Regions from separate parts of the Homo sapiens genome. Here regions 2, 3 and 4 are each linked to region 1. Evidence: fine-mapped QTL for protein levels in blood plasma. A gene starts in region 1. Each other region holds a variant in brackets. All regions are shown on one strand. Distances are between the middles of the regions. Region 1 holds the start of THBS4 (thrombospondin 4). Region 2 overlaps THBS4 (thrombospondin 4). Region 3 has its middle 13 kb from the start of THBS4-AS1. Region 4 overlaps LOC105379048 (a long non-coding RNA gene).

Evidence for each region. PIP is the chance, under the fine-mapping model, that this variant and not a neighbour inherited with it causes the effect. Protein levels are from antibody-based Olink assays in UK Biobank. Linkage for the fine-mapping came from a reference panel and not from the study's own genotypes, which makes the PIPs less certain.
Region 2: its variant is fine-mapped to the plasma level of the THBS4 protein (UK Biobank, PIP above 0.99).
Region 3: its variant is fine-mapped to the plasma level of the THBS4 protein (UK Biobank, PIP 0.98).
Region 4: its variant is fine-mapped to the plasma level of the THBS4 protein (UK Biobank, PIP above 0.99).

What each region holds. Positions count from the first base shown.
Region 1 is chr5:80,030,964-80,039,130 of GRCh38, reverse strand. It overlaps THBS4 (thrombospondin 4), which reads right to left and starts at 3,783. Exons shown (of 22, transcript NM_003248.6): 1 at 3,506-3,783. The coding sequence starts at 3,593. It also overlaps the pseudogene TRMT112P2.
Region 2 is chr5:80,068,529-80,076,695 of GRCh38, reverse strand. It overlaps THBS4 (thrombospondin 4), which reads right to left. Exons shown (of 22, transcript NM_003248.6): 11 at 6,286-6,390; 12 at 5,946-6,053; 13 at 5,516-5,675; 14 at 4,300-4,418; 15 at 3,369-3,421. It overlaps THBS4-AS1 (THBS4 antisense RNA 1), which reads left to right. Exons shown (of 8, transcript NR_109930.1): 4 at 4,031-4,188; 5 at 4,473-4,610; 6 at 4,805-4,964; 7 at 7,922-8,167. Among named protein-coding and RNA genes, the nearest start is that of THBS4-AS1, 11 kb to the left of the region's middle. RefSeq lists an enhancer at 5,308-6,507. The variant C/A (reference allele first, on the strand shown) is at 2,272.
Region 3 is chr5:80,092,427-80,100,593 of GRCh38, reverse strand. No RefSeq gene overlaps it. Among named protein-coding and RNA genes, the nearest start is that of THBS4-AS1, 13 kb to the right of the region's middle. The variant C/A (reference allele first, on the strand shown) is at 4,224.
Region 4 is chr5:79,871,085-79,879,251 of GRCh38, reverse strand. All of the region lies in intron 1 of LOC105379048 (a long non-coding RNA gene), which reads right to left. Among named protein-coding and RNA genes, the nearest start is that of LINC01455, 61 kb to the left of the region's middle. The variant C/T (reference allele first, on the strand shown) is at 3,688.

The sequences.
Region 1 (8,167 bases):
GATAAAGAGTTCTTACAAATCAATAAAATGATAAGCATCTTAATAGAAAAATGGGCAAGGAATATGAAAAGGCAATTTACATAAAAAGAATTACAATGACCATTAAGTATATAAATAAATGTTCATGTATTTACCTAATGATGCAGGAGTTGCTAACTTAAACAATAACGTATTGTTTTCACCATCGAATTGGAAAATTAGTAAATACAACAGTACTCAACTGTTTGTGAGGGTTCAGGGAAATGGGCACTCTCTGTACCACTGTGTAACATTTAAACTAGTATAAACATTTTGAAGACAGTTTAAACAACAGTATCAAAGGCCCTAAAACATATGTGCTCCTTGATCTAGCAATTCTGCTTATGGGAATTTATCCTAGGGAAATAATGGATAACATGGTAAATGATTTAGGTACAAGAATATTAGACACTAGTGGTAATTCTAGAATTTCTATTTAGGAAAGAATTAGGTGAAAATCTAATTGGAAGAGAGGTAAACCTGAGCTCTGTTGGCATAGCATTTTGCTATGAAAACATTAACTGTCCTTAGCAAAAAAAAAGAGAAGGGCTTGGCTGAGATTGAGGGGATGGTTAAACTCATCCCAAACCATCCTGTGACACCTGCACTTGTTCAATAAATTAATATTTACAATATCAAAACCGAAAACAACTTAAGGGTTCTATATTACAACCCTGGCTAAATACATTTTGATTCTTCCAAAAAGCAGAATACTACCTATTTTTAAAATGTAGCTGAATACTTACAGATGTGAAAAGATGTTCATGATACATTAAGAAAAAAGGATTCTAAAACTATATGTATAACGTAATTCCATTTGAAATATATTTTTGCATAGAAAAATATTTGAAATGAAAGACAATACAACAACATGTTAATGTTAATAGAAGCTATCCCCGGGTTGCATAAATATAAGTTTTAAATTTCCTCTTTTCTTTTTATTTTATTTTTTGCTTATCTAACTTTAATCTTTTCTACAATGGGCAGGTATTGCTTTTGTAATAAGAATGAATAAAAGTTCTAAAGCAAACAGGCAAAAACCTAGTTACTCAAGAATATTTACCCCTTTTAAAAGACAATTTGTCTTCAAACTGGATCTATACTGTATTTTTCACATGTACCAGGGGTCCTTACACAATAATGAAATTAACATGAGATGTGTTGGAAAGCAGAACATTTACTGTGCTCCTCTTAGTGCCTATATCCCTAAACCATAAACACTGTTGCCTACTGCATTTCAAAAGGGAAATTGGATTTTTTAATTTTCAAGAGAATTGGAAACTTTACATTTCCACTAATGAGGGCAAAGGGAAATAAGGCAATATGTTTTAAAGTTCCATTCAGGACAAAACATCTTCAGAAAAGAGATATGTATTTAAAGTATGGGAACTACATTCAAAACAAAATTCTTAGTACTCTTGATTCTTCCTTTGACTATGATCAGGTTCATGATGTAACTCAAGCTAAACTTGCGGTATTTCAATCTATGGTTCGTCTGATTCATTTGCATCTCTCTCAAGCGGCAGAGATGGGATTAGTTAGTAATGAACATAGAGAGTGTTTTGAAAAGGAAATGAGACACTACCATTTTCTATTAATGTTATTACGTTTAAGTGCCAGGATCAAAGCACAACCCTCTACTGTTAGAGGTGAAATTACTGCTACCAATGAGCGCAGCTACCATGGTATGTAAATTGAATATATACTAATTTAAGACCAACAATGAAGCTCAGGGGAAGAAGGAGATAATCAAATTATCCTGTTAAGCCTGATAATTGCAGACTAGATAATGCAATAAAAGAATCTATCAGAAACTTAACTTAATCAGATCATCTACAGCAACTAAATTACCCAGATAATTTAGGTTGTATAGGCCGAGTTCAAATCTCCATAAAATGGTCAGGTATGTCTGAGACATACCTAAGGCACACCATAAAGCTGTATGTTCAAAAGTCAAGAACGTATATAACACAAAAAAATTATACCTATAAATTTGAACTTGCCAAATATCATCACAATAAGACTTTTGAAGTGTTTAAAAGCTTCCTTTTTTACCTTCCTAGAAGTATGGGGCACGGACTACAGCATTTCAAATACTTCAACACAAACTAAAAGTTAGCAGTACTCTAACCCCTGAAACCACAGTTCTGGTTGTCTGGTCTGGAATGAAAATGAGTTATTTGGCGAAATGCAGTTTAAATGGGTGATTCCAGCAGCGAGAGGCAGGGAAGTTGAGAACGCCCTCATAGGCAGTCTTTGCTCTGGCTACAAGAGGAAAAACAACTTTTACTTCAAGTTGTGCGTCTCTTCCAGTTTTACTTCCACAGTCAGTAATAAATCAACCCAGGCACCAAGTTCAAACAGATGAAGCTCACGCCTGACCAGTTAGGGCCAGTTATAGCCCTAAGATCTTTCTTTGCTTAAATCATGTCTTCCTTTTGGTCTTTACAAAAAATTCTGTTTAACTGCTTTCTACCCAATGGCTATTTCACCCCATTTCACCAAGGGGTTTGAGGATTGTCCAAGTATCTTTTCACATTATTTGTTGAATTTTTACCGTTTCATAGAAAAAGATCAATTTCTTTCTTTTTTCTTTTTAAATTATAGATTCAGAGGGTACATGTGCAAGTTTGTTACATGGGTGCATTGCATAAGGTGGGATTTGAGCTTCTAGTGAACACATCACCCAGTGAACGTAGTACCCAATTGGTAGTTTTCCCAACCTTCCCCCCTACTTTTGGAGTCCCCAGTGTCTACTGTTTCCATCTTTATGTCCATATCTATCCACTGCTTAGCTCCCGCTTGTGAGAACATGGTATTTGCTTTTCTGTTCCTGCCTTAATCCACTTAGGAAAATGGCCTCCAGCTGCATCCATCTTGCTGCAAAGAACTGATTTCATTGAAAAAGACCAGTTTCTCAGCCCTTCCTATTTACCTCAGAAATTAAGACATCAAGCCAATCCTTGAAATAAACTTTCTTTTTGTCGTTCAAGCAAAGTCAGAGCAGAAAATGCAGGTGGCAGGGCAAGTAGAGTAATTCTGCGTCTTTCTCAGGGATGTCAAGAGCAGACTCTGGGCATACATCGCTCCGCCTGAGGAAGGATTTAGGGAGCAAGGCTGCCTGGAGGGAACCGGCACAGGGTGCAGGACCCGGAATTCACCCTACACCAGAGCCTAACATGTTAAGAGGTCTAGGACCGTGTAGCAAGTTTTGAAGGCAACCCCACCCCACATCTTTGCATAGTCTGAAACAATTTTGCATCCCCCAACTATTTAGGCAATTGTTCTCATCATTGGATAATCGAATTTCGGAAAATTCTAGACTAATCACTACCTCCAATCACAATATGCTTTGATTGGGCCCGGGAGGGACAGAGAGGGGCTGAGCAAGGCCACAGGAGCACAGGGCCGAGCAAGTCCCTCCACTCACTCAGCAGATGGGGCACCCGGTGCCCGGCGCTCCCAGGCCCGACCCGAACCCACTTACCCTGGGGGGTGGCCTGGGCGCCTGCCGCTAGCCACCGCTGCAGGACCAGGTGCAGCAGGAGGACGGCGGCTCCGCGCGGGGCCAGCATGTTGGCTCTTCCTGCTCCCCGCGAGGCCGGGGGCGACGGCGGCGTTGGCCCCGCCTGGGGGTCCCCGGGCCGTGCGTTGAACCTCGGTCGGCGCCCGGGCCGGCGCCGCAGGTGACCCGTGCTCGGCGTCCGGGCTGCCGTCGGGGGCGCGCTCGCGTCCCCGCCGTGCGGTGCTGGGGAGCTGGCTGCTGGGCTCCGCGGCAGCGGCCGGGCGCTTTATGGTGCGGCCGGGCGGGGGAGGGCCGGGGCGGGGGCGGCCCCCTTGGCGGGATCCCCTGTCCTGGGAAGAGCTGGGCAGCTGGAGCAGCGAGCCGGGGCCGCAGGGAGAAAGGCGCGGGTGTGAGGATGGGAAGGAGCCTGGACGGACCAGGTCCTGGGGTGGGTGTAGACACGGCCCCGACGCGCGAGGGTAGGGGCGAAGATGGGCAGTCGGGGCTGGAGAGAAAGGGGTGCTGAGCAGAGACCACAGGGGAGAAAGGAGCGGGAGGAAAGGGGCGAAAGGGAGGAAGAAAGTGACACTGACCCACTAGCTTTGGGCACCTTCAGTCCCCTACTCCTTGCGCTCCTTTTGTTTTCTAAAAAGAAGAATATCCTTTGGATCGGCTTTGAATGCCCACCTTGGGTTCCCTTGCGAATGAATCCTGAAGTTCTCCAGGAACGCTCTGCCTCCTAAAGTGGCCCAGAGAGCAGCGAGTTTCTTTTATTTCTTCAAGCTTTTCTTGAATACTTGAAAGGCTGAATTTTTTTCTCTATCATTTTGAGACACAGTGAAAGTTTGAAAGTTGTTGTGTTTTTAATGGAGATAAAACACATCTCAAGGAATCCATCCAGACAGAGCCATTTCTAGGCTGGTGAATCTGTGCTTTATGGATAATTCGTTTTCAGTATGGTTTCCAAACGCCCTGCTTGCCCACCTCTATTCCTCTGTCACCAAAGATTCCGTGTGACAGTTTAAAGGTACGGGAGTAGAACTTGAAAGAGATCGGAGGAACGCAAGTAATTCGTCCTTTTCCTGGGCAAAGCTCCCGGAATGATATGGATTAACTAGAGGAAAAAATATTTGATAAACAGTGGCAAAAATTTCTCCTCTGTAACAATCTCGACTAATGGAGAACATCCAGCAAAGTATTGCTATCTCTTTTATGTCTCAAATAATTCCATTTCAAAGTTTAATAAGCCACAAACTGGGAGATTAATGCACCATTTTATCCCCAAACTGTGCTAAAATAACCTGACACCAATTATCACTCAATTTACAGCTAGCGACTTGGAGATTTGTGAGCTATCTGCAGAGCTCTCTAATATGTAAGGTCCAATACAGGTCTATCCAGGGTTCCTTTAATGCCACATTACACTACAGTCACTCTTTGGAATGGGGCATATGTCTACACATGAGAGAACACTGAGAGACACAGAGGATGTGCATAAATATCGACTAATGAGATAAACTAGATTTGGGAACATTCAAATCTCCAGACCATGTTCCCAGGAGTGGCCTGGGTTTGAGAGGAATCTAGGCTCCCAAGCTACGCTTCAAGCAGAACAGCCTTGCCTTTCTATGTTTTTACAGTAGACTTCAGAGATTAAGATTTTCTGTGAAGACAATATTTGGATGCTCAAAATTTTGAAAGCCACTATTCAGTGGTTCTCAGCTGATTGGGTATACCAGAATCTCCTGGGGAATTTAAAAAACAGTGATTAGGTGCCTACAGGGAACAAATGAAACCAAACATCAAAAGCAGCAATATGCTATATCACACCATAGACTACTCTGATACATAAAATAGGGTTACTCCTTAAATGAGTCACCAAGCAAGCCTAGTGGATGCCTGTGAGAGTTCTTGTGTAGTGTGCCACCAGACACTGCCTGTTTCCTCTCAGATCTGGTGCTCACCTTCCACTGCATGCTTGTCAGCAGTCTAGATAAAATGGGAGACTAGAGAGCAATAAGAAGGTAGAAGGTAGACACTAGAGTATTTACTTCTCTGTGACCTGAATGGATGCATCTTCTTTGTGACTCTTGCAGGTGGGGTCCACCATGATTCTAGCTTCTGCCTTCTCACCATTTGCACCCTCCAGCCATGACATTGGAGGTCACTTACTGCAGTTGCTAAAATGTGGATTGCCTCACTCTTCTGTTTGACATCTCAGTTCTTCTACTATATATGTAATCATTTCCCTGTATTAAATTTCTTCTATTTAAAATACCTAGAGTATTTGCTAGGAATCTCCATGGTGAGGACAATGCACCACGTGCTGCTGGAGGTAGATGTGTTGGAGGGCACCCTGCAGTGCCCAGAGTCTGGACGTGTGTTCCCCATCAGCCGCAGGATCCCCAACATGCTGCTGAATGATGAGGAAACAGAGTTGATCATGCCAGGTGCCAGTTTTTCTTTTTATGACCGTGTGTATTTTTGTTGATGTTACCCTGTTTCTGAATTCTGCCATGTGTGTCCCCAACCCTTGACCCAATGACACACCAGACGCACGGTGTTCTTGAGCACAATAGTATTTTTTCTCATTAAAGATTCAAAACCAAAACAAACAAACAACAAAAAAACTAGGAATTTTCGATCCTAGCAAATTCCCAGCAAAATAGCTTGCACATCATGATGGTTAATGTTGAGTGTCAACTTGACTGGATTGAAGGATGTAAAGTATGGCTCCTGTGTGTGTCTGTGAGGGTGCTGCCAAAGGAGATTAACACCTGAGTCAGTGGACTGGGAAAGGCGGACCCACCCTCAATCTGGGTAGGCACCATCTAATCAGCTGCCAGCATGGCTAGAATAAAGCAGGCAGGAGAAGACGGAAGAGCAGACTTGCTGCGTCTTCTGGCCTTGATCTTTTTCTGTGCTGGATGCTTCCTGCCCGCAAACATTAGACTCCAAGTTCTTCAGCTTTTGGACTCTTGGACCTACATTAGTGATTTGCCAGGGGCTGTTGGGCCTTCAGCCACAGACTAAAGGTTGCACTGTCAGCTTCCCTACTTGAGGTGTTGGGACTCAGTCTGGCTTCCTTGCTCCTCAGCTTGCAGACGGCCTATTGTGGGACTTCATCTTGTGATCGTGCGTCAATACTCCTTAATAAACTCCCCTTCCTATCTATCCTGTTAGTTCTGTCCCTCTAGAGAACTCTGACTAATACACACATATAGGCACACAATAAATTTTGGTTGACTACTAAGTGTAACGGAAAAACAAAAGAATCAAATGACTTTCTGTTAGCCTAACAGAATTTACAATCTGGTTTTGCTTTTAGAGGGCTTGCATTTTTATGCAGCCATTCGCTAGGGAGTCTCAGTAAACTTTATGTCCTCAGGTCTACAGTAAATTTGATTATAATAAAATTAATTTAATTAGCTATGAAATATATGATAAAGGAGACAAAAGAGTTTATTTTCATTTCCATGCCACTTCTTATTAAAATATCTATTCATGTACTTACATTGGATTTTATTTCATTTATTTTAATAATGTATTAATTTGTTTGATTTTTTTTCCAGTATCCAACTGTGAGCTCCTTAGGATTATCTCATTTAGTTTTGTAACTCTAATTCCAAGTACAGTACCTAACATTTAGTAGTAAATATATCATTGAATTGACTTTCCTTCTCTTAATACTGTAATCTAGGATAAGAGTTGTGACATATTAGTAATCCATTAATAGGTGCAGTAGGTTACAAAAATGGCCCCAATTCTTTGCTCTTCTGTGTACACATCTTTTATTTTTCTGTGTACACATCTCATGGCTTGGCCACGTAACATGCTTGGCCAACAGGATTTTGGCAAAAGTGCCACAAGCAGAGGCTTAAAAAGTGCTTGTGTTATTGGGCTGGTTTACTCCTGCACCTTTGCCTTTGCCATGATAGCATGCCTGTGCTGGCCTACTGGAGGATGAGAGACATAGAGCAGGGTATAGCCCACCCCTGGCAAAGCCAGCCAAGATCAAGCTGACAGATGAATGAGTTCAGGCAAGATCAGCAGAGCTGTTTAGTTGACTCCAGATGTGTGAGCAGGACACATTTATTTTTGTATACCATTGAGGTTTGGGGGTTGTTTGTTATGTAACAATATTGTAGCAATAGAGAACTGATATACTACATTTTATTTCTTTTCTAATTGTTGTAATACAGAGTATGACTTAATTTTTGATGTTTGACTGCAGACAGTTCTCAAGCCCCACCACTTCCCTTCCTCTCTGCCCCACATCTGAGCAAACTGATAAGAATGCCTAGGTGCTCCTTCCTTGGCACTAGCACAAAGTTCCAACAGTAAGCCCTAGCCCATGTACAGGAACCCTCACCACAGCCCCACTCCTAACCACAATAAGAATCCCAAAGCCATTCTCCTTTCTTGTTCTCTCTAGTTTTCAGACCAGCTTGGAAGCCCATCTTACTCTCCCCCAAAAAAACGTATTATGTGAGCAATAAACCTTTCAAACCCCTTTGCTGCATGTGTGATGGCATTATTGATTTTGATATCCAAACCCAATTTTGAGAGTGGGGATCTATCCTGCTCCTGTGCGGTGACTATAGCACCATTCTTCGCAAGTGGGGGAAATCACCCATACTGTGC
Region 2 (8,167 bases), 38 kb before region 1:
TGGGCCTCAGAGACAATTTTCCCATCCCCAACCTCTTAAAACAAGTGAGTCATTTCCTACTAAAGAAGATAAGGGTCTATTTCTATGATTTATGACCAGATGCTCCTATCAGTCAGTCCCTGGGAACTGCTAGATGATACTCAACTCAGAGGATGTGTGAGGGGAACAATGACAGGCAGTGGAACCAGACAGCCTCAGTGTAAATCCTGGCTCAGCCACTGTGCCCAGCGTGTGACCTCAGGCATGACACCTGACCTCTCTATGGCTCAGTGTCCTCATCTGTAAAATGAGAATAGTACCTACCTCATAGAGTTGTTATGGAGATTAAATGATGAAAATCAGAATGTTGCATATTAAATTTCAATATATGAAAAAGTGCTGACTCTTAGGAAGCCCTACAGTGTTTTCCGTTATATTACTCTTCACAATCCCTGGCTAGTGGATCCAATGAGGATTCAGACCTGAACGCCATGGGGAGAAGGGCAAAGTGAACAGGGCCACGCCTTCTCGAGGAGAGTGTGTAGGCCGGGCTCAGTGCTGGTCTAAAGGACTTCTCAGAACTCTCCTTCTCTGTCCACCTGACTTTCTGGGCTGAGGGGCCACCTGAAGATGAGTCTGCCCTGCCTCCAAGAGGTGTCCTGGAGTCTGAGACCTCTCATGGTTACTCTGGAAAAGAATGAGCACTCCTTTAGACCTGGTCCACCTGCGGCCTGTCCTGGGCCAGGAGCTGCCCCTGCACCCTTTTGGAGAGGGAAGCCAGGGACCAGACCATGCTCTAGGGCCACACCTACCACATGGTACAGGGGGACAGAAAGGGTCCAGTGAAAGTGAAGTCAGCCTTGACAAGCAGAAAATGATGTGGCTCAAACAGCAGAATCCCTGTGCATGCAGCAGGTCTGCTTTATAAAACACAAGACTGAGCTATTTCCATTAGCAGCCGTTCTATGTAGCCCTGAACATTTTTATGCAAAAACAAGCAGTTCCTATCCTCTTCTCCAAGGTTCAACTTTGTGGGAATTAAAACATAGCAGAATGAGTCATTTGTTTTGGGCAAATATCTAGAGGCTGGTGGGACAGGATATTTTAGAAATTAATGTAGATAGTAGTCAGAGTGCAAGATGACCTGCACCAGGGAACATTCTTGACGCACATCATTTAGGGCAGTTGTCAGGATACAGTCCCACCTTCCTCTCGGAAGAGGAGAGGGACATCTGATGTCAGGCTCTGTTGCTGATGTGCCTTTCCTTGTACTGTGATACCAATAATAACACGGCCCCTGTTTTCTGCATGTCACCCTTGGGCCAGCACTGTGCCGGGAGCTTTACCTACATTATCTTGATTTTTCACCATAACCTGTGCGATGCATTTATTTATCTCCTCTTTGCAGATGAAGAAGTTGAGATGTGAAGAGACTGGGAAATATGTTTAAGTTCACTTAGCTAGTACAGTCAGGCCTCTGTATCCGCGGTTCCGTATCCGCAGATTCAACCAACTGAGGATTGAAAAGATTTGAAAAAGAACAATAAAAAATAACACCAAAAAAATACAAATAAGAAACCAATGCAGTATAATAACTATTTACCTAGCATTTACATTGTATTAGGTATTAAGTAATCTAGAGAGGATTTTTAAAGCATATAGGAGGACAGGTATAGGTTATATGCAGATATTACATCATTTTATATAAGGGACTTGAGTATTTGAGGATTTTGGTATCCTGGGGGCAGAGGGGTATCCTGGGACCAATACCCTGGGACACTGAGGGATGACTATATGTACTTTGCAGCAAGGACACAGAGCATAATGAAAGAGATGCACACTTTGGGAGGATGAGGCAGGTGGATCACTTGAGGCCAGGAGTTCGAGACCAGCCTGGCCAACATGGTGAAACTCTGTCTCTACTAAAAATACAAAAATTAGCCAGCATGGTGGCACACACCTGTAATCCCAGGTACGTGGGAGTCTGAGGCATGAGAATTGCTTGAACCCAGGAGGTGGAGGTTGCAGTGAGCCGAGATCACGCCAGCCTGGGTGACAGAGCAAGACTCCATCTCAAAAAAAAAAAAAAAGAGAGAGAGAGCTGTGGCTTCATAGGAGCTGTCCTTGAGTAAGGTTTGGGTCAGGAACTGGTTTTCTGCAGGGCAACCTCTGATCCAGGTATCAGGAGAGAAATTGCATCTTTTTTTGCTTTCTCTTTTAGAATCCTTTCCCTCTCATCCTTGTCCTGGCTGCCTTTGTAAGAATTCCCTATGGAGACAAAAGGGTTTAGAA[C/A]CTTGGGTTGCAGGTGCCGCTAGGGCTGAGTGACACACGTCTGTTTTTGGTGATGTTCTTCCAGAATCTGATCAGTTGATCCAGCCTTGAGTCTTAATGTGGGACTCCATCGTGTTGAGCTAGGAGGGTTCACAAAACTCACTTCCACAGAACAATTCCACTTAAATAAGGAAAACTGAATTAAAAAAATTTCAAGGACCAGGAAATAATAGCAATCCCTCAGCAAACTGACAGCCTTCTATTTTGGGATGATGGTGAAGTTTTCCTGAGCTGAAAGAATATAAAAATAAAAGAGCTAATGTCTATTGAGTGCTATGTATATAACAGAAACCATAATGAGCACTTTCCATGGATCAACTCAATCTTCACGATGGTCCTATGAGCTAGATCTATTGTCATCCTCATTTTACAGATGAGAAAATTGAGGCAAAAGTATTAGGTAATTTGCCTAAGGTTAGCTGGCATGTAAGAGAAGGAGCTGAAATTTATATCTAGCTGTCTTATTCCAGAGCCCATCTGTGAAGCATGATGCTATATTACCTCTCCTGAAATAGATCTCACTTGCTGGAGTGCCTAGTAACCTATTCTGACACCGTTATACCCTATACAGAACTTTCAGGGAGAATTTTCATGGTAATTCTGACCAGAGGCAGGGCTATTATCCCACCAGCAGCTCAGTCCACCCAGAAAGATCCCAAGGAATGGAGCAGCAGGAAGTTCTGAAATTTAAAACCCTCTCCGGGCTGGGCACAGTGGCTCACGCCTGTAATCCCAGCACTTTGGGAGGCCGAGGCGGGCAGATCACAAGGTCAGGAGATCGAGACCATCCTGGCTAACATGGTGAAACCCCGTCTCTACTGAAAATACAAAAAAATTAGCCAGGCATGGTAGCGGGCGCCTGTAGTCCCAGCTACTTGGGAGGCTGAGGCAGAAGAATGGCATAAACCTGGGAATCGGAGCTTGCAGTGAGCCGAGATTGCACCACTGTACTCCAGCCTGGGTGATAGAGTGAGACTCCGCCTCAAAAAAAAAAACAAACCAAAAACCCTCTCCGGATGTTTGCATCTGTCTCTCTGCAGTTGGGAGACATGCCATACCTGTCCTGATTGGTGTCACAGGAGTCCCCAACCAGATCATTATCCACATCAGACTGCAAAGAGAACAGCACATGTTATTTATTCCTGGGCCTGCATGTACCGAATGTTCCAGAGAAGGCAGACCTCACCCATCATCATTGGATTTGGGGAATTATTTCTCTGGAACCGGGGTGGTGCAAAACTGCAAAAGGACAACACCATATTGGTGTAGGCACAATGCTGAATTTTCAAAAAAGCCTTCTAAAATATCAAGCTACATGGATGGGCTGCCCACACACCAGATGAGCTGATTGGAAAGGGGCGCTGGGGTAGCATGGTGGCAGGTGGAGGCATGGAACTCTGGCACGGGTCACAGGGAGCCAGCCATAGGCATGGGGAGAAGGCAGGTTGATTTTGCTTTGCTTCTGCAATTTGCAATTTGGCCAAAATCATGAGTGAGTCACAGAGGGCAACCATGACTCCCCTCTCTCAGGGCTTTAAAAATAAATGACACATCATACCCAATTATCCAGACAGGGAGGAGGAGTGAGAAGGGAGATGCAACACATCCCTGGCTGAACTTAATCTGAAATGTCCATACATAGGCTGTGTAGGGGTTTAGGGACTAAAGGGACACAAGGCTCCCAATGGTTAATTTCCATGCTCCGTTTTCCTTTCTGCAGGAAAAATACTTGTATTGAGCATCATGAAGTTCGTGTTACTAACCTCACAGGCAATCGACAGCCTGGGAGATAGTCCCTAGGGCTTCAGATCTTGTGTGGTGTTCATCCCACCATCTTCAGGCCCACAGTGTGTCATTTTTCCACCTCTGCTTTGTTAGGTAAGTGGCAACAGCTAAGAGGCTCTGCTGTTTTTCTAGACACCCGTCTTAAATGAGTCTTTGCATAGAGGAATTCAGCCTGGAGTTTGAATTCCCCAGTATCCTACTAACCTGGTTAGGGTTGCTGACATCAGGACAACTGTCACAGGCATCCCCCACACCATCACCATCCTTGTCCCGTTGGTCACGATTGGGAAATTTTGGGCAGTTGTCCAGAATGTTTTTTATTCCTGTGAGAAAGAAATGCTACCTTGAGTCAGGGGAATGTCACTGACTTCTTCTAGGTGCTGGAGAGATCAGGCGCATGGTGAGTCACTTCTGCCTGGGCCAGTGTCACACAGAGACTACCCTTTTCTGCAGTTATCCAGAGGTAGCTTCAAAGGACGGATTCTGGGAGACTTAAAAATGAACAGCTCTCAGAGGTATTTATCGACTGAATTCTAATTTGTCCAAGATGTCAAGGGCTATGATAGCAACCACGAGGAGGGGATCATGATGGCTGTATGGCTGACCCTGGAGAGGGAGGATCTCGTGGGTATCTGAGCTATGACTGAGACCCTAGGGCTCTAGGCAGTGTTGTGCTGGAGCTGGGTCCATTGTGTCCCTCTCTTTTCAGTTTTGTGTTTGATGATGTCACATTGGTAGCTTGAAATCAGCAATGAGGACAATGCGGAGTTACATCATGGAAACTGGAAAATGCTACCAACTAGGGCTTTCTGTGATTTGCTTACCAGCATATACCACTGGAAATGGGTCATCAGTTAGGCTTGCAGAAGGTGAGGTCATGTTTTAGGGGGGTGTGCATGTTCTGGAGTGGTGTATGTGTGTGTGTGTGTGTGTGTGTGTGTGTGTATGTGTGTGTTGGGGCAGGTGGTATTTCAAAAAGGTTTTTCCTTCAAGGGCCCACAATGGGATGTGTAGCCTGTGATGCATAGTCTGTGACCCTGCTCAATGCCTTCTCATTCAGTTCTCCACTTCTGGGTCTCTCACATGTAGAAAGGATAGTGGAGAGTGAGGACAGGTAGAAATGGGAAGGGAGATACCCCATAAAGACACACTCTGACAAGACACTGCTTGAAGGGGTCATACAAAGTTTCTGGCAATGATACAGAGTCCTGGAAACATCCAGAGCCATTAGGTAGTGGAGTGGGCTGTGGGGTCTCCTTCCATAGACACAAGTCCACCTTGGGTCTTCCAGATGCAGGCCACAATGAGCCACCCACAGCTGGAAGGCTCCGAATCAGTCATTCTATTCCTACTCTCTCAGAGAACAATGGAACAAGGTCAACTGAATTCCAAATAAAAGACAAAAGCAAGATAAATCTACCATCTCCATCCATGTCATCATCACAGGCATCTCCTCTTCCATCCCCATCGGTGTCTTTCTGGTCGTTATTTAAGACACTCAGGCAGTTATCACAGGCATCCCCAAAGATATCTTTATCGCTGTTCCTTTGGTCCACATTATGAATCAGGACACAGTTATCCTAAAAGATGAAAGGACAGAACATCACTCAGACTTTTACTAAATCCACTTCCTCCATTGTTGTGAAGCATCAGCACTCTGGTGGCCCAAGTTTGTCAGTTTTATATTTCAAACATCTGTGAATCTTATAGGGTAAAAAGCTGCAGTGCTGTGGAATGCAGGCATGGAAACTAACATTTGGGATGATTCATATACATAGTTGACATCACAGGCTTTCTCCCATCATCCCTGGTACGTGGCAATTCACAGGCCCTCCCAGCGAAGCAGGTACCTGCTCATTCAGGATCCCATCTCCGTCAGCATCCTCGTCACAAGCGTCGCCAATGCCATCTCTGTCTGCATCTTCTTGGCCAGAATTTGGCACATATTTGCAGTTGTCCTTAGGGGGAAAATGCAGTTCCGAGTGACATCCTACATTTGTGTTAAGCCAGTAACTGTTTCTGACCTCAAGACACTGTGGCTTTATTGTTGGTGGCTGTTTCACTTCCTCTGAGATGCAGCTACTTTACAAGTACAATTTTAAATTAGATCCACAGAACCTCTCCCCATAGAAGATGTGACTTTGGAAAGCCACAGTGCATGTGTGCCTACTGCCACCCCACACCCCTTACCTTTTTACAGTTCCTGGCAGAGCATGGCAGTTCTTCGTCGGGGTAACTGTCGATGTCCACATCCTTTCCACAGATATAGCCATCTCCAGCCCAACCGACTCCACACTGTAAAGGGAAAGCCCATCAGAGGCCTGGGAAGCTGAGCCTGGCAGGAAGCTGGTGGCTGACAAGGGCCTCTCTGCTCCTTTGCTCAATCCCAGGGGGAGGGCCCAGAGTCACTCAGCCTTGTTGGGTGGGGCTTAGAAACTATTTAATTGCACTTGAATAGTGTAATGGTTCACTATTCAAAGATATAAAGGGAGACTCAGAGAGAAAACTCTCCCTCCCACTCCCACTTCCAGGAACAGGCAGAGCAGCAGAAGGGAGATGGGAGGAGGGGACCCAGAAGGTCACAGGGAACTGGAAACGCAGAGGGAGAGAAAGCTGACCTGGGACGGGAGGTAAAGGAAGGAAGAGGGAGAGAGTCTGAGGAGCAGAGTCTGGGCCAAGGGAAATCAGACTTATGTGAGCACAGGTTAAATTTCCTGGCCTCACCACCCAAAAGCTTTCAGACCAGTGACTTCCTCAGCCACAGCCTGCTTATTCTCAATCATCTGTGCTCTCCCTCTGCAACCAGGATTTAGGAGGCAGAACTCCAGAGAGACCCTCCCGGGCTCCTGGTTCCTGCTCACTTGCCCCAGCAGGGCCTTTGGAAGGCCTGGAAGGCTGATCCACGAGGCTGATCCTTGACTCACTTTAATGAGGAAAAAATGTCCTCTAGGAACAAATACATTTTTAATGAGCTATTTTCTGGCAGATTCAATTATTTTAGTAGTCACGCCAAGTTTATTAATCCTTTACCATCTGTCGTTGTGCCTTATTACAAATTCAAAAACATATTAAGAGCCCCATCACCCATCATCCCAGGGGAGTTGTCAATTTGTTCACAGAAAATGGGGATTTCAACAGAGATATACACTTGTTTCTCAATGACTGCTTTTTGGTAATAAACAAGCCCAACCATGAGGAATTCAGGAAATTGCTGGGGTTATTCCCCCTCTGATACACCACATTCTTCCATCTGACCTTGTTACAGAATATCTGTATTGCCAAGGAGGGCTGACTTCATTATATTTATTTATTAACTCATTTTTGACTCTTATTTTTCCTATTTGAAAAGTGGTAGGCTCATTGTGGAAAATTGTGTATGCATAAAGATAAAGAAGCATAACTTTGAGATAAAGATGGAAAAGGGCTCCGAGAATCCATCTTGCTACTCAGGGGTGATCACTGTGAACCAGTGACCCCAGAGTCTGACGGGCCACCGGCCGAGGGCCTGGCATCCCAGGAAGTGCAGAGGAGGGGGGCAGCTGAAGTCTGCTGATTTTTCAGTGCCTAGGATCCCCAGGACTTTGGATCCTTGGATTTGGGAATGGATGGCAGGCTGAGGACTCTGGATCCTTGGACTTGGGAATGGATGGCAGGCTGAGGACTCTGGATCCTTGGATTTGGGAATGGATGGCAGGCTGAGGACTCTGGATCCTTGGATTTGGGAATGGATGGCAGGAGCATGCCCTCTCCTTCACATAGGGCCCACTACAAGCTCAGCATGGGACCCATGTCAGGCCCTGCTGTGACTGCTCTACTCTCTTCCCAGCCTCCCCTCCCCAGACCAGCTCCGTGGCTGGAGAATGCACAGGAAGCGTGACCATTCATGGAGCTGTCCCTGATTGGAGTGGAGGTAGACATACAGCATGGCGCCGTCTGGCCCTGCCAGTCACCTGCCAAAGACGGAAGGTTTCTCCCGGAGGGACTATGACAGTCCCCACCTCTACACGATGGCCCACCCCCAACAGGAGCGTCAAGGCAGACAGACTCTGGAAGTTGTAAGGATGAGGACAGT
Region 3 (8,167 bases), 61 kb before region 1:
CTCAGAGATCCACCTGCCTTGGCCTTGCAAAGTGCTGGGATGATAGGTGTCTGCCACTGCACCTGGCCAGCACTTGATTTTTGAGTATTTTCTTTATAGTTGTTTGTTGTTATAAAGGTACAAAATAACACCTTAACCTTATTATTTGAATTTGTCTATCTTTGAGTATTGGTGTGGTTGAACATTCTTTCATCTAGAACTGGGAAAATTGGCCGGGCGCGACGGTTCATGCCTGTAATCCCAGCACTTTGGAAGGCTGAGATGGGTGGATCTCTTGAGGTCAGGAGTTCGAGACCAGCCTGGACAACACGGTGAAACCCCATCTCTACTAAAAATACAAAAATTAGCTGGACGTGGTGGTGCATATCTGTAATCCCAGCTACTTGGGAGGCTAAGGCAGGAAAATCACTTGAACCCAGAAGGCAGAGGTTGCAGTGAGCCAAGATTGTACCATTGCATGCCAGCCTGGGCAACAGAGGAAGACTCTGTCTGAAAAAAATAAAAAAATAGGGAAAATTAAGCTTGGAGAAAGTCTGTTAGAAATAAAAAAGTTCATAAGAGAATTTCCAAATAGATACAAGAGCAACGTTATTTTGTGTTAGCTGTGGTTCTTAACCTGGGGTCCAAGGACTGGGGTAGATTGACTCCCTGAAATAATATGCAGAGTTTTGTGACCATATGCACAGTAGCATGGAAAGGGTCCTTGGCACTCATCACAATTTCACAAGGATCTGGACCTAAAAAGGCTCACTTATAGGATGGAAGATTTCTGCCCCAAGTAGAAAAAAGGCAACAGAGGAAAGCTCTCAAAGGCCACTTTTTGTTTGAAATTGCATTCTGCCACTTGCTAGCTAGCTCTGTGATCTTCAGCTAATTATTTACTTCTCTGTGCTGTAAGTTTCCTTGCCTGTCAGGTCAGGTGGAGTAATAACAATAGCATCTATTTCATAGGATTGTTGTCATGATTAAATGAGTTGACACAGGTTAAGCACATTTCATTTAATTTTTATTTTTAAAGGAGTTGAGGTCTTGTTCTGTGGCCCAGGCTGAAGTAGAGTGGCGCGATCATAGCTCACTGCAGTCTTGAACTCCTGGGCTCAAGGAATCCTCTTGCCTCAGCCTTCCAAGTAGTTGGGACCACAAGTGCACACCACCACACCTGGCTAGTTAAATTACTTTTAATAGAGGCTGGCACATAGCAAATGTTTAATAGATGATGTTTACTAATAAGAATTATTAGTAACTAGAGCCTTCCAACAATAGGATAGGCTACATCATACAGCGGTGAGTTCCCTGTCACTTGAGGTGTTCATGAAGGAGATAACAGCTGTCAGGCAGGCTCTTGAGGGGATCCCTGAGTTGGGAGGGAGGAGGAATCTGGCATTCTGAGTTTCTGTGAATTAAATTTTCCTGTTGGGCATGTGGCAAATGGTGAGACTAGCAGTTCTCAAGAAGCCAACAGGCCTCCAGCAGGAGTGACAGCTGCGCCTGCTAATATGGAAATGTATTTCTGAGCAAGCAGCCTGTTTCAAGAGCATGTTCCTGGCCCATTCTCCTGAGGGTGCAGAAGAATAGGTTTTTTTTTTGTATTTTTTTTTTCTTTTTTTCTTTTGAGACAGAGTCTTGCTCTGTCGCCCAGGCTGGAGGGCAATGGCGTGATCTCGGCTCACCGCAACCTCCGCCTCCCAGGTTCAAGCGTTTCTCCTGCCTCAGCCTCCTGAGTAGCTGGGAATACAGACGCGCACCACCATGCCTGGCTAATTTTTTTAATTTTTAGTAGAGACGAGGTTTCACCATGTTGGCCAAGCTGGTCTGGAACTCCTGACTTTGTGATCTGCCCACCTCAGCCTCCCAAAGTGCTGAGATTACAGGCATGAGCCACTGTGCCCGGCCTGAAGAATAGTTTGAAAAAACCAAATGCAGTTTCTTCACCATTCTGTGCAGAGAGACTAGGAGTGGGGAAATCACCATAATAGAGCAGGGGTTGGGGGCAGGGTGTATGGCGCAGGGGCAGAGTGTGTGCTCCCAGTAGCTTTGCTGACTAACAGATATTTACTGAGCACTTACTGAAGGCTGTGGGTGGGTGTGATTGCAGGTGGTGAGTGGGGTTAAAAATATGAATTAGATCCAGTATCAGTGTCTCTTCATTTTTCTAGTTTCCATTGTCCTTACTGGATTTCTAGGCTATTCTTGGAAGGGCAGTAAAGCTCAGCTGAGTGGCTGAGGCATATGATTGTCTTTGGGTAGTGGGCTCAGAGAAAAGTTGGAAATTTCCTTTTTTAATTGAGATACGGTCTCACTCTGTCACCCAGGCTGGAGTACGGTGGTGCCATCATGGCTCACTGTAGTCTTGAACTACTAGGCTCAAGTGATCATCCCACCTCAGTCTCCCGAGTAGCTGGGACTACAGGTGTCCACCATCACACTCAGCTAAATAATTATTTTTGTAGAGATGGGGTCTCCCTAGGTTGGCCAGGCTGATCTCAAACTCCTGGCCTCAAGTGATCCGCCTTGGCCTCCCAAAGTGCTGGGATTACAGGCGTGAGCCACTGCACCCGGCCCGAAATTTCTATATATATGTCTGTGCGCATGCTTTTGAGCACAGGGTATCTGTTCAAACTTAATATTCCCTAATTTTGGAGTAAGTAAAATCTGAGTGCTGAGGAAGGTTTGCTTCTGGTCAGCTCCCCCAGAAGCAGACCCTGAGATAAGGATGAGTGAACCCTCTTTATTTGGGAGGTGAAGCACCCCTAGACTGGGGAGGGAGGAGAGGGAGGAGAGGGGCCTTACCACTGGGGGCAGCTGGAGCCTAATCATGCGGGAACAATGCAGGGCACATTCCTCAGACTCAGCCCCCACCAGGCGAGGGGCTGAGGCTTTACACACCCGTTCCCTTCATCTCACTGGAGCCCATTCCTTAGGTCTCCTAAATCCCCCGCACCTCCAACATAGGCAGAAAAAGCAGCTTTTGCACCAGAGGAAGCCCAGAAACAAAGAACTGCAGGTGCTGGTGCTTTGACATCCGTGAATGACAAAGTGAAAGAAATGGGCAGGCCACCAAAGCATCTGCCACGGTGTTTCCAGCAGGGCCGAAACTCCCTCGGTGTGAGTGGGGCCGGGTGCGCACAGGGAAGCAAGATGGATCCAAGCGAGCTCTTTGTCAAGCCCAGTCCTCTGTAAAAGGTTGTCGGTCTGTGTACTTCATAGAGGGACTGGCCAAGAAGGCACAGGTGGGGTGAAATCTAGCCCGGGTTCCACCACTAAGCACCATATGGGTTCGAGGCACTCTGTATAGACTTAGGTTTGAACACCACGGGAAGAGGGAGGTGTGAAGTCTGATGGGTGAGAGGAAGGTGAAGAGGAGGGAAGCTGGGGCCTGAGAAGTCCCAGGTCATACCTGCCTTCCACTGTTGAGTCTCTGCCCATCGAAACTGGAAGCGGGATGGCCTCCCAGGAGATCTCTGAAATTTCATCACGTACAGTCTATCAGCATGTTTTCTTTTTTTTCTTTTCTTTTCTTTTCTTTTTTTTTTTTTTGAGATAGAGTCTCACTCTGTCACCCAGGCTAGAGTGCAGTGGTACCATCGTAGCTCACTGCAGCCTCAACCTCCAGGGCTTAAGCTATCCTCCCACCTCAGGCTCCCAAGTAGCTTGGACGACAGGCACATACCATCACATCCAGCTAATTTTTGTATTTTTTGAAGAAATGGAGTTTTACCATGTTGCCCAGGCTGGTCTCAAACTCCTGGGCTCAAGCGATCCACCTGCCTCGACCTCCCAAAGTGCTGGGGTTACAGGCGTGAGCTACGGCAATCCGACACTGCTTTTTCTTTGAGTCCTCTAGACAGAAACCCCCTTTTGGACTTTACCCCTGCCCTGGCCTACCTGAGGCAGTTCTCATAGCAGGAAAATGAGAACCATGAGCCTGTAGCCCCAAAACCTGGGATCTGGCCTCAGTTTTGCTCCTAACTAGCCATGTAACCCTGACAAACCACAGAGGTGACTAGGCCTCAGTTTTTCCAACTGTAAAATGAAAAGGCTGAAACAAAAAGCTTCCTGATGACTCTTCAGATCTAAGATTTGGTGAGTCTATGGTTCTGGATACATGACTTTATAAACACTTCCCCATCCGGAATTTCTTTTGCATTAAGGAGGATTAAATTTAGCTGGAAGTAACAGTAAAGCCCCAAGAACAGATGGAGATTTTTCATGTCCACAAAGTC[C/A]AGTGATAGAAATCTTATGGTCTGTTACTGGTATGTTACTCCACGGTGTCAGTTCTATCTTGTTCTCTGTGATGACGCTTCTATTCCCAAGGCTTTCTCATCAACTCAAGACAGCCTCTGGAACTCCAGCTATTATATCCATATTCCAGCCTAGGAGGAGGGATAAGAGGACGAATAAGAAATATTAATGATCTGGCTGGGCGTGGTGACTCACGCTTGTAATCCCAGCACTTTCGGAGGCCGAGGCAGGTAGATCATGAGGTCAAGAGACCGAGACCATCCTGGCCAACATGGTGAAACCTAGCCGGGTGTGGTGGTGCATGCCTGTAATCCCAGCTACTTGGGAGGCTGAGGCAGGAGAATCACTTGAACCCGGGAGGCGGAGGTTGCAGTGAGCTAAGATTGCACCACTGCACCCCAGCCTGGCAACAGAGTGAGACTCCATTTAAAAAAAAAAAAAAAAATTAACCCTCTTTAGAAGAAGATTCCCAGAAGCTACCATGAACTTTTTTGCTTATATGCCACTGATCAGAACTTAGATGGCCACAACTCACCTGGGAAGTATAATCTTTTATTCTGGGCATCTGGGTTCCTGCAAAAATTTGGGACACTATGACTATGAAAGAAGGGTAGAGCTGGTATTGGGGGTGACTGCCTCACCTTAAATTTCTCTAGGTATGAGACTAACCAAATAAACCACTTCAGTTAGACTCTGTCCCTTGTCATGTGTCCAATCTCAGGGGTCTCCACTTTGAGTTTTGCTTCTCCAGCTCTGCAGGTGTTTTGTGGTGATTGGCCTCAACTTTTAGGCCCCTGTTTTCCATTATTTTCTCATTAGTGATGCCTGTGATGACCTAGCACCTCAATTATTCTTTGCACTTTGTAAGCCCAAAGCCTCTTTCAGTTGTTGGAGATAGTTGACTGATGTTTCGGGGTCTCCAAGACCACTACATTTAAGTGGTTTGCTAGAAAGTCTCATCGGAGGCTTTCTAGACAGGGATGTTTAGAACAAGGCTCTCTTTGGACCCAGGTAAAAACTCTCAGGATTAAGTAAGTCTGAGTTCTTCAAATAAACAAATGCCCTCTAAATAGAATCTAGTGATTGGCTGAAGCATAACTCAGCATCTAGTTATTCTTACAGTTATAATTTATTACAGTGAAAGGATACAGGGCAAAATCAGCACCAAAAAAAAAAAAGAAAGAAAAGTGTATGGGGCCAAGTCCAGAGAAAACCAGGGGGGCAAGCTACCAAGAGTCTTCTCCAGGTGGAAGTCACATAATATGTGCTTAATTTCCCCAGCAATGAGTTGTGACAAGGGATATGAAATGTTGGCCACAAGGGAAGCTCATTAGAGACTCAACACCCAGGGTTTTTATTAGGGTCTCGTCTTGTAGGCACCTTCTCCCTACCATGTACCAAAATTCCAACTCCCAGAAAGAAAGCAGATGCTCAGCATAAACCACACTGTACAGTCAAGACATGGTGAACCACTCTTATCAGTTTCAGAAATGGTGGGAACACTCTGGAAAGCCAAGTGCTCAGATACCAGCCAAGGGCCAACTTTGCAATTAGGCCTTTCTAACTAAAGATCAGCAGCCATCTCGGACCTGCTGTTAACTCTTCTCTGCATACCTGGTGAATGTGTGCTGTCGCTATAAAAGAATTTCAGATTTTGGAACCAGAGTCAGTGATGCTGGGTTTGAATCTCTTTCCATCTATTGATAAGGTAGGAATCTTCTACCTGAGACCTCAGCTCCTGTCGGCTGGCCCCCAGTGTACCCCTATCCTCTCCAGGCAGTGGTGACAACCCCTAACAGGTTGTTAGCCAGAGTGTTCCCAGACTGAACTGAGGGTTGGGCTGCTTGTTCTCATGGCCCAGTAATGAGATGCAGATAAACTGGGAAAGAAGAGAGTTTATTTCTGTAACCCGGTACAGGCAGAAGGCCAGGAAAATATCACCAGACCGACTCATATTTACAAAGTTTTCCAGTGCTTATATGAAGCTATATGTCTACATGTAAGTGTGGATTCATCAAAAGACACAAGTGACTGATTCCCTGTAATCCATAACTAAGATCTGAGTCCTGGAGACCTTCCTCCGGAGCCTCAGTAAGTTTATTTAATCTAGATGGGTCCAGGTGCTGGGGGTGATTACCCTTATCTTGCCTCCCGCTGAGTTATGGCGGTCTGGGGAGTTCTTTGCTGACCCCTAATAAAACGTGTTTAATCCTAAACGTGGGTACGAGGAATGTAAGAATTTCTTTGTTATCTTGTCATGCTTCAAGGCCCAGGAAAGGCCTAGGCAAGACTCTTGGTGGCTTTTGTCACATTCCAGCCTTTGTGTAAGGACACTGGCTCTTGCAGCCTTTAATGTTTAACCTAAGCACTCAGTCAGTGCTGAAACAGTTGTCATGGAGGCCTGCCTGTTTAGCTATTCGTGAGACCTGGCCTGCCACAAGAGGGGTTGAGTCCCAACCTTCTCCATATCCCCTGCAGGCCGCACAGGGTACCTGGGAAATCCCAAGTACGGACTCTCATACTCGATCACTTACAGAGTCAGGTAGAAACTTACATGTGTGGACACTGCGGTGCATGGACAACACAGGCCCTTTTCAAGGTTCCTGTGCGTGAATGCAGATGGAGGCTGGAGCTTTTGACTTTTTAAAGAGAAGTTGGAAATCCAGGTTTTTGTCTAAAAACACTCAAATTTTAAATGTTTGCTCAAGTTAGCAAATAGAAAACCCAACAGCAACCACCAAAACACTATATGGCCCAAAGAATTTTTGACTCAAGTAATTTAGGTCATGCAGACTGTCCTGGGCCAGGAAGCTGCCTGCCCCCTGCTCCCTGGAAGTGTTCTTCCTGGCAGGGATGTTTAGGACGAGGCTCTCTTTAGACCCCGCTAAAACCTCTCAGGATTAAGTCTGGGTTCTTACAACAAACAAATGTCTTCTAAACAGAGCGAGAGAATCTAGTGGTTGGCTTTGAGGTGCATTTAATTCTTTTTTTTTTGAGATGGAATCCCCCTCTGCTGCCCAGGCTGGAGTGCAGTGGCACAATCTTACTGCAACCTCTGCATCCAAGGTTCAAGTGATTCTCCTGTCTCAGCTTCCCAAGTAGCTGGGACTACAGGTGCATGCCACCACACGTGGCTAATTTTTGTATTTTTAGTAGAGATGGGTTTTGCCATGTTGCCCAGGCTGGTCTCAAACTCCTAACCTCAAGTGATCTGCCCGCCTCCACCTCCTAAAGTGCTGGGATCACAGGCTTGAGCCACTGCGCCCGGCCAGGTTCATTTAATTCTAAACTACACTATAATTTTGCAGTTATGATCAGTATTATTAATAGTAAGACAAAGGCTTTCAGTCATACAGAGGCCTGGACTAAAATGGACTGGCTTTGTGTACTTTTAAAATCCCTCCCAGTATCTAGCACAGTGCCTGGTATGTAGTAATTGCTCAGTGTGTGTCTGAAGAATGAGTGAATGATGAGTGGATAGATGAATGGCTCTTTGCTTTGCTCATGGAGAAGACTCTATCCTGTGAATTTAGGCTGAGGGACAAGGCAGAAGTCTTTGCGAAGCAATACCTAAAAGAAAGCGAGGCTTCAGTGTTCGTTCAGAGACTAAGTTGCAATAATTCACGTTTAGGTGGTGGTTTCCTTCCTATGTGGTGGTTGTTGCTTTTTGTTGAGATGTTCGTTTTGATAAATAAGAGTTCTTTTTTTTTAGACAGGGTCTTGCTCTGTCACCCAGGCTGAAGGGCAGGGGTGCAATCATAGCTCACTGCAGCCTGTCCACTCAGGCTCAAGTAATCCTCCCATCTCAGCCTCCCAAGTAGCTGGGACTACAGTGCACACCACCATGCCTGACGAATTATTAAAACATTCTCAGTAGAGATAGGTCTCACTATGTTGCCCAGGCTGGTCTCAAATTCCTGAGCTG
Region 4 (8,167 bases), 160 kb after region 1:
TGAATGCTGAATCTACTCTGGTTGGTTGATGCTTGTGCCAATCAGTTTCCCCCAAAATATGGACTTCTAGGCACTGCCATTGGCTTCCACCATGAGAGGATTGCCTCATGCCCGTGTCTTGGTGTTTTCCCAATCCAGGTGGGTTTTGCTTGAGGATCACTGTGGTGGTGTTCAGCAGGCAAGCCCTATGCTCACCAAGCTCTAGGCCTTGTCCCAGTGAATTCACTTAACCAGAGCATTCCCAAATCCCATGGTAAAGGGATGACATTACCCCTGATAGGGACTCTGGTACCCTCCCAGGCTGTAGTCAGCTACCACAGGCCAGTGCTCCCTCAGAGTCGCCCTCACCTGGCCATATGTGGGAACATCAGCTTTTGTCGAACTTGGGCTCCTAGAGTACCCAGTGAAAATTGAAAGAGCAAATAAGTGCATATTAATATGCTTCCTACAGGTCCTGGTCAGGTGCCGGGCAGAGTTCAGGAATGATGGGCACTCTCGAGAAAGACAGGCACCCATAAGGATGGTCTGGAGACCAGTGAGAAATTCTTCTCTGTTGAATTACTCCTACATTTATCAGAAGAGCTTGGATACCTGATGGTCATCTGTCCTGGGCATTTACAATATTAATTTTATTACTAAAGGGGAGAGCTAATGGGAATAGAACGCCAGCTGTGTTCATTCTAGATGTATATTAATTCAGTGGAACACCACAGATACCATAATTTCCATTTTATGCATGAGAAAACCGCAGTGCAGGGAGGTTATCTACAGCCTGAGGGGCTGAGCCAAAATACTGAACTGGCAGCTCAGTACGTAATTGCCCACTAGAGCCTCTCATCTAGCCTAAGGAGTAGGTGAAACTCAAGCATGTGATTCCAATATACCATTTTCATGACTTAGTCAATATAAAGATATTGAATAGATAAAAATCTAAGGCAGTATTACAAGCGCTAGGAAACTTTGTTAATGCAATGGCTGTTATTTCAGCAGATGCTGAGAGAAAATTAAGCATCTTGAAAAATACCATTGAAGTTAAGTGGATTCTCCACTTCCTGAGTCTGCGTGTTACTTAATGTGCAGCAATTTAATGGGAAAATCATTGGAAAAGTTTTCTCATGGCTCAGGGGCATCATTTATCTAGTGGCAGTTACATCAAAGAAAAAAAAAATCACATCTATAAACAATTTGTAGTATTACTTAAATCTCTTGGAAAGGAAGACATTGAATAATATCTATAATTTAGCAAATTTAGAGAATAAAATGGAACACATTTTATAATTACATTTAAGATAAATGTAATAGTTTATGAAATTATATCCACGTGTCAGCTGTTAAATATTTTTGTCTTGCCCCTGCCTATCTCTCAAGCCTTCTCTGGTGATTCCTCCTCTCATCCTGGGCTTCAGCAATTCTGTAAGCTTCGGTTCTTGAGAGTCCTCCCTTTTCTTGGAACATTCTTCTCCCTACATCCACAATGCTGAGCATCAGCCCAGGCTCACTTCCTCAGGGTGAGTATCTTTGCCCTTTGGAATAAATCAAGTACCCTTACTGGATATTACAGAACCCTCTGGATGTCTCCCAGCAAAACCTTATTGCCACTGGCTATTAATGTAATCACTTATTCTGGGCCTGTTCTTCTTACCAGACTCTAGGTCCCATGAGGGCAGAGGCGACCGCAGTCCTACTCCCTGCTGCATCTCTAGGGCCCAGTCAGGGGCCCTGGACATACTAGCTGCCCCAAAGCTATTTTCTGAATAAAAAGCTGCATTGCGGCCCATCAAAACACTTTACATTTGCCTTTAAGTTAATAGCACGTGTAGGTTGGGCACAGTGGCTCACGCCTGTAATCCCAGCACTTTGGGAGGCCGAGGCGGGTGGATCACTTAAGGCCAGGAGTTCAAGACCAGCCTGGCCAACGTGGTGAAATCCCGTCTCTACTAAAAATACACACACACACACACACACATACACACACACACACACATAAAAGCATGTATAGATATTTTTAAATTGACTAACAAATTTTTGCAGTCAATCATTTGAAAGTTAAGTTCAAATGATTTTCTAAAAAGATGTAAATTGGGGTTGAAACCCAAGGTTCTCGGCTTCCAGGAATTTTTCTCTAGGGATAGTTATTTAACTGACCGAGCAGCACCCCTCATTATTCTTGGATTTTCCCATACTTGCCAGGGTCTTACTCTCCTTTCTCTTCCTACAATTCATCATCTTCAGAATCTCTACATATGGGCCTGAGCAGACCCCTCATATTGGTTTGAGTTGGACACCATTTTGATCATTAGACCTTTGTTTGCTGTTTGGTGGTTTTTTGTTGTTGTTGTTGTTTTTCAGAAACACGCAAATGTTGTGTTTGATCTGTGGTTAAACACTTCTTGAACACTTCAGACCTCGGCTTCTTGGTGATCTCATAAATTTTCCACAGACTGTGTGTCATTCACAACCTAAGGATCTGGAAGGAAACCCAGCTTTAAAATGCACTTCCCAGTGATTTCAGCCTGAAAGGTGATATGTCTGTTTTTCTAACATCTCAAAGTCACTGGAATGTGCATTGGCAATGTTTCTAGACCAGATTTCTGGGGAACTGGCTCATTTGTCTGAGAGACACAGTTAAGTTAAAGACACTAAAATCTCAATTCTCTTGGCTACTTCACTTCAACTACACAGATGGCTGCTTTGGAGACTAGCATATATATTAGCTGAGATAAACAGGAATATGTCCTGGCAGAAGAGTATTGTCCAAGTGATATTAGAAGCAAAGCTTCTGAGAATGTCATTAAGAATATGTCCTTTAAGTGGTGAGACCATTGGTTGATGTAACTCAACATTCATTCCTTTATTCACATGTATTTCCTGCACAGAGGCTGCAGGCCAGCCTCTCTGCTAAGCTACATGAATCAGGCACAATCTCTACCCTGGAGAATTTTATAGTCCAGTTGAGCAGACAAACAATTATAGTGCAGTGGTAGCTTTGTGTGTGTGCTTGGTACAGCAGGCTTTGGGGGCACAGAGTGAGGAGTGACCACCCCTGCCCTAGAGGATTCAAGAAAGGCTTTCTAGAGGAGGCTTTGAACTGGATCTTGAAGAATAAGTGGTAGTTTACCACTCTTGGGAAAAAGTGGCAAGGGAACCTAGAAGCAACGGCATGGCAAAGACACAGACTCAAGAAAGAAGACTCACTGTTCCAGAAATATTTAGGAGCTTGATGTGGCTGGAGCACAGGTCCTCTGGGGGCAGCAGTAACATTTTCATGGGAACATGGTAACTTGCTCTTCATAGGCTGATCCTAGTGACCATGACATCTAATATCTGTGAATTTATCTGACCTATTCTCGGACCCATTTTTTACTTCCATGCAGAACACCTAATGGGGGTAATGGGTTCCACTTACAGGCTACAGGCTGTGTAAAGATCTATTTCCTTTCAGTTGTCCTAAAATACTTCCTTAAATGATCACCAACAGGGTCATTTTTCCCTCTTTTTATAATTGCAGTGTTTTGGCACTCCTACCTAATCCCCAGGCATCCTATAGATAAAGAATGGATGTGAAAGGCACCACTGAAGCCCTGGCTGGGGCAGCCATGCCCACCTAAAGGCCAAAACCCACCCCCGCTCCACCTTCCACCTCACACGCACAGGCCGCATGCTGCCTTTTTGTAACTCTTTTTCTCT[C/T]TGATGACCTCCCTTGATGTTAATGTTATTCTTTTATTTTTAAAAAAATAAAACAAAATCCCCAATGCATTAATGTGCAATGAGAACTAGATCTGCCAAGTGACTCACAGCAGCCCGAGCAGGACAGTCTCCCCATGCAGCTGGGAAGAATCTGAGCCTCGGCTGCTGATTAGAAGGATGGAGCTGGTGAGCGGCATCGGGTGCCGGCAGACTGCAGCGTCCATTGCCGCAGTAACAACACTCCTGGCACCTGGGCTTCTCCCCAGTCAGGACTGGGATTGGCCCTGCCAAGGTGACACTCTGGAGAGCCACCTTCTTCTGATACCTGTAAGGATATAAATGTTAGGGAAGGACAAAGCTTTTATAGGTGATCTACAAGATGGCTTTACAAAAAAGTTCCTTTGGGACTTTGTCCTGAAACAGGAAGCTTTTAGCCAGAGCCATTCTGGAATTTTAAAAAGAAGGGACAGGATTCTAATCTCAAACAACCCCTGGAATCAACTTTTGACTCCTCCTGTCTGACTTTTCCTCCTCCTGCTGGGACAATAGAACTTGCCCGGCTCTACCCAGGGCCCTTTCCCTTTTTTCTTTCCTGGCCTCTTGGCTCAGCTCACCTCCCGCTTCTCATCCTCCCTGAGCGATGTCACACATGCCCATGGCAGGCAGGAGAGGAGAGAGGTTGGATAAGGAACACGGTGCAAGCCTGACTCCACATGAAGGAGAGATGGGAGGAAGGATGGAGAGAAACACTGTAGACCACCCAGCAATGTAAAGAAGCTCAGCAGCGTTATGGGGGTGTTCTTGAGCAAAGGTGGCCATCAGAGTTGTCCTGGCTTCCAAGGAACAGGCTGCCCTGGCACTCCCACCAACCTCAGCCATTGCCTTGGTGTAGCCTATGGGAAGCATGGCCTCCATACAGGCATGGTGATGGATTGCAGAGTGCAGCAGCTGGGCTCCTGGTCAATGAAGTTCCTCCATCTTGGAGGTCTGCGAGGCTCATACTCATGGCTGCCACACTGGAGGACTCCATGTCATCCTTGCCTGGCCAGCTTCTACTGTCTTCCAGGTCTTAGTTTAAATGTCACTTCCTTAGAGAAGCCAACCCTGACCTTGGGGTTGCCCAGGCCCCCCTGCTGTCTACTCCCAGAGCGCACACTTCACTAAAAGTTCCTGTTCAACTGACTCCTCCGATGCACTCTGCACTCCAGGAGAGCTAGGCTGAGTCCACAGTACTCGGCAGTACTTGGCCCCTAGAAGCCACTCAGTATGTATTTCTTGAATAAATGAATGACTAGTTGCTGGTGCTTGTGAGACAGCTCAAATTGTGCAACAACCTTGGCTTTAGGGAATATGCTTCTTCTGCAATGGATTGTTCCAGGTAAAAGCTTTGCCTTTATGGGGCATTTACAATTTTCAGGCTGAGTTTTCAGAACAACTGAAAGGACCCCTTGAGGGAAACATTTCAAATCAGGGCAATGTGCCTGAGCCTCTGTGGCTATTTCCCTAACTTTATGCCTTAGAATAGGGTCTGGAGCAAGAGAATTGGGGACAATGGAATCCGGTGAAAATCTACTTTCTAATCCTGCTTCGGGCACTAACAGGGTCTTAGATTTATTCTCTAAAACCGGTGTTCATACTGCTCTTTCTCCTTGGGTTAACAAGAGCCCTAAAAGACATGCAAGATGTAAACATGTTTTGGGCGTTTCTCAATGCCAGCCCAATCTCGGATTGTCTTGCTGTGGCTGTTGCTTGTGGACTACAGATTTCAGGGTGCAAGCAAGTAAGTGAAGCGAAGATGTGGATTGGGACATCAAGATTCCCCAAGATGTTTTGTGGGTGGCTGTGCCTTGGAAAATAACACAGGAATAAAGAGAAGATGGGGTTGCCTAAAGCAGATCAGAACTGTCTGACGAGTAAGGAGGGATGTGTAAGCCATGGAAGCTCATTCACATGATTTTACATCGGGTGTAAAAATAGCTGGAACCCTAGTTCCAGCTAATACTCTTCACTGGGAAAAATGTGGGCAGCTCTGTGGTAAGAAGCAGTACTTCCTGATAAAATCTGTCGATCCGTTTAAGATGCTCGGAACCCAGTCCCTCAAGATGTCTACAATGCCTCAGCCAAGTTGGCCAAGGCCCTAGAAAACATTACATGCTGCGGAGAACAATGTGTATTGGCAGAAGCCACTCTCATGCTCTGTGTACAGCTCAGTTCAACCTCAGATCACCACGGACAACCAGTGGGGGCCCCTCGCTGGTCCCAGAGCACCCACTGGAAGCACCTAGGGCAAGAGCACCTTTCTGGGTCCCCGAAGTTGCGTGGCACACTTGGAATAAATACAGGCATCAGAGAATCCAGAGAGACCCAGGTTCAAGGCCAGACTTCACCAAGTCAGTTCTAGGGCTTTGCACTATTTCCTTAAATATGACTTTTTCATCTGTCAAATGGAGCTACAGCAAAATCCCTCACAGGGTTGTGATAAGGATTTCAGATAATGTATGTCAAATATCTAGCCCACAGAAGAGTTCAATAAGTCAGAACTATTATTATTTTAACAAACTTGTGTTTGGATGCTGGTTTTGCCGCTTACTAGCTCTCTGATCTTGAGAAGTTTACTTAGCCTCATTGAGCCTCATTTTCCTTATTTTTAACAGGAGAAAATAGTACTTAACTTTCAGTAGTGTTATAAGAATTACAGTTAACGTAAGAAAGGTATCTGAGTATGTTCCTGGCACAGAGTAGTACTCAAAAAAAGTTATGTACTATCATTTTTTGTAAATCAAAACAGGAATGAAAATTATTCATGTTGGGTCATATCAAGCAAGTGTGCGCGAGGCTAACAAGCCATTTGAATTGTTCTGTGGGAAATAAACTCTCTTCCAAAACTGGCTGTCTCATTTCCCCAGGTTAGATGCGTTCTGAACCTAAGACTGACCCAGAACTTGGAAGGGTTGGGCCCTACCTACCCTCACTCCCTCTATGGGGCTCTCCTTCCTTTGGCCACTTTCCAAGGAGACATTTTCTCCTCCAGCCCCAGGTCCCCTGAGGAGAGCTGAAGCAATAGGTCACTATCATTTAAACTGCTGCAGAATTTGCAGACCGTGAGACTCCTGTCTCTCCCCACTCTGCCTGGCTCATCCCCAAGAAGAAAGGAAGCCAGAGGTGGAGGAGGTTATAAAACCATTTTATATCCATCCTGTTTTTAATTGATTTCACAGCAGGAGAAGAAAAACCAGAGTGTTTCCCACATAACCTTTCTATGCGGGAGTTCTCTTCTGGTCAGGAAACTCATCTGGGAAGAGCCAGAGTCCATCTGTGTGTTCTCAGTTGTCTTCCTGCAGCCTGTGAACCCTGATTCTGTTAGTGCCCTCCATGAGGGCTGCTCCTGTGTGTCCCTGGGCACCCCCTTTACACATCCCCTTGGGGGCAGAGGCAGCCCTTCCTTGGCTGTAAGCTGCCCTGGTCTCCAAATGGGTCAACCTTTTCCATTTAATGTGCAGTGCACATGCCCCTGGGGCCTCCCGGTCCCTTAGATCTCTTAGATCTCCATGCTCTTGGCTCAGACCCACAACTCATGACCTGCAGGAGCCCAGAGTCCTCCGGAGATTTCTGTGGATTCCTGGGAGGAGGCAGGGGTGGCTAACATTATATAGGCCTCTCAATTTTTCTGCATCTTGGGGCAGGAACTTGGTCCCCAAAATGGTGCATGAAGTATTTTTTGTGAGGACTTGGTTGTGGAGAGTGGTCACAGAATGCACTGCGGATAAAACAATGAAAACATGCATGTTTGATACTTCCACTCTTAGAAAACGGTTCAGCCATCCAGCCATGAGTTGGGGATGCGGAGCGATACTCTGTCTTTGTTAAATATTTTTAAACATAAACGCTGCCTCTAGGGAGGGGAACTGGGTGAGGAGGAACAAGGAGCCAGAATACATATCTTTTTAACTTTCTGGATTTTGCACTATTTACACATATAACTATTATGCATGCATGCATACACACATATACCGTATCCCATGTATATTTATGATATCCCTTATGCTGTCTCCCTGCTTCATCTGCAATGTCCTAGCCCCTGCTCTCTGCTGAACCAATCTTTCAAGGGCTGACTTCAAAGAGTTTTCTCTTCTCATCTACTCAAGCCCTCATCTCTTCTATCCTCTCTGAACCCTGAGAGAATTTCCAGTGGGTCTTGCTAAGCCTGGGATCCACTCACAAACTGCCTCACAGTGTAACTCCGTTTCCTGAGAGCAGCGCTTGCCTCTAGTCATTTCTCCTTGGTGGAGACTCAGCACGTAGCTGAGTGAATGAATGAGAGGGAGAGGCAGAACGCGACAATTCCTAAGGAAAAGGGCACTGCTAAAACAAAATGCCCTTTGGAGCCTGCATGAAGCAGCTGGTATAAGCTCTCCCTACTCCCAGAACCAGTTGGAATGACGGAAGTGAGAAGCTGTCTGTCATGGAGCCCATTACTGTC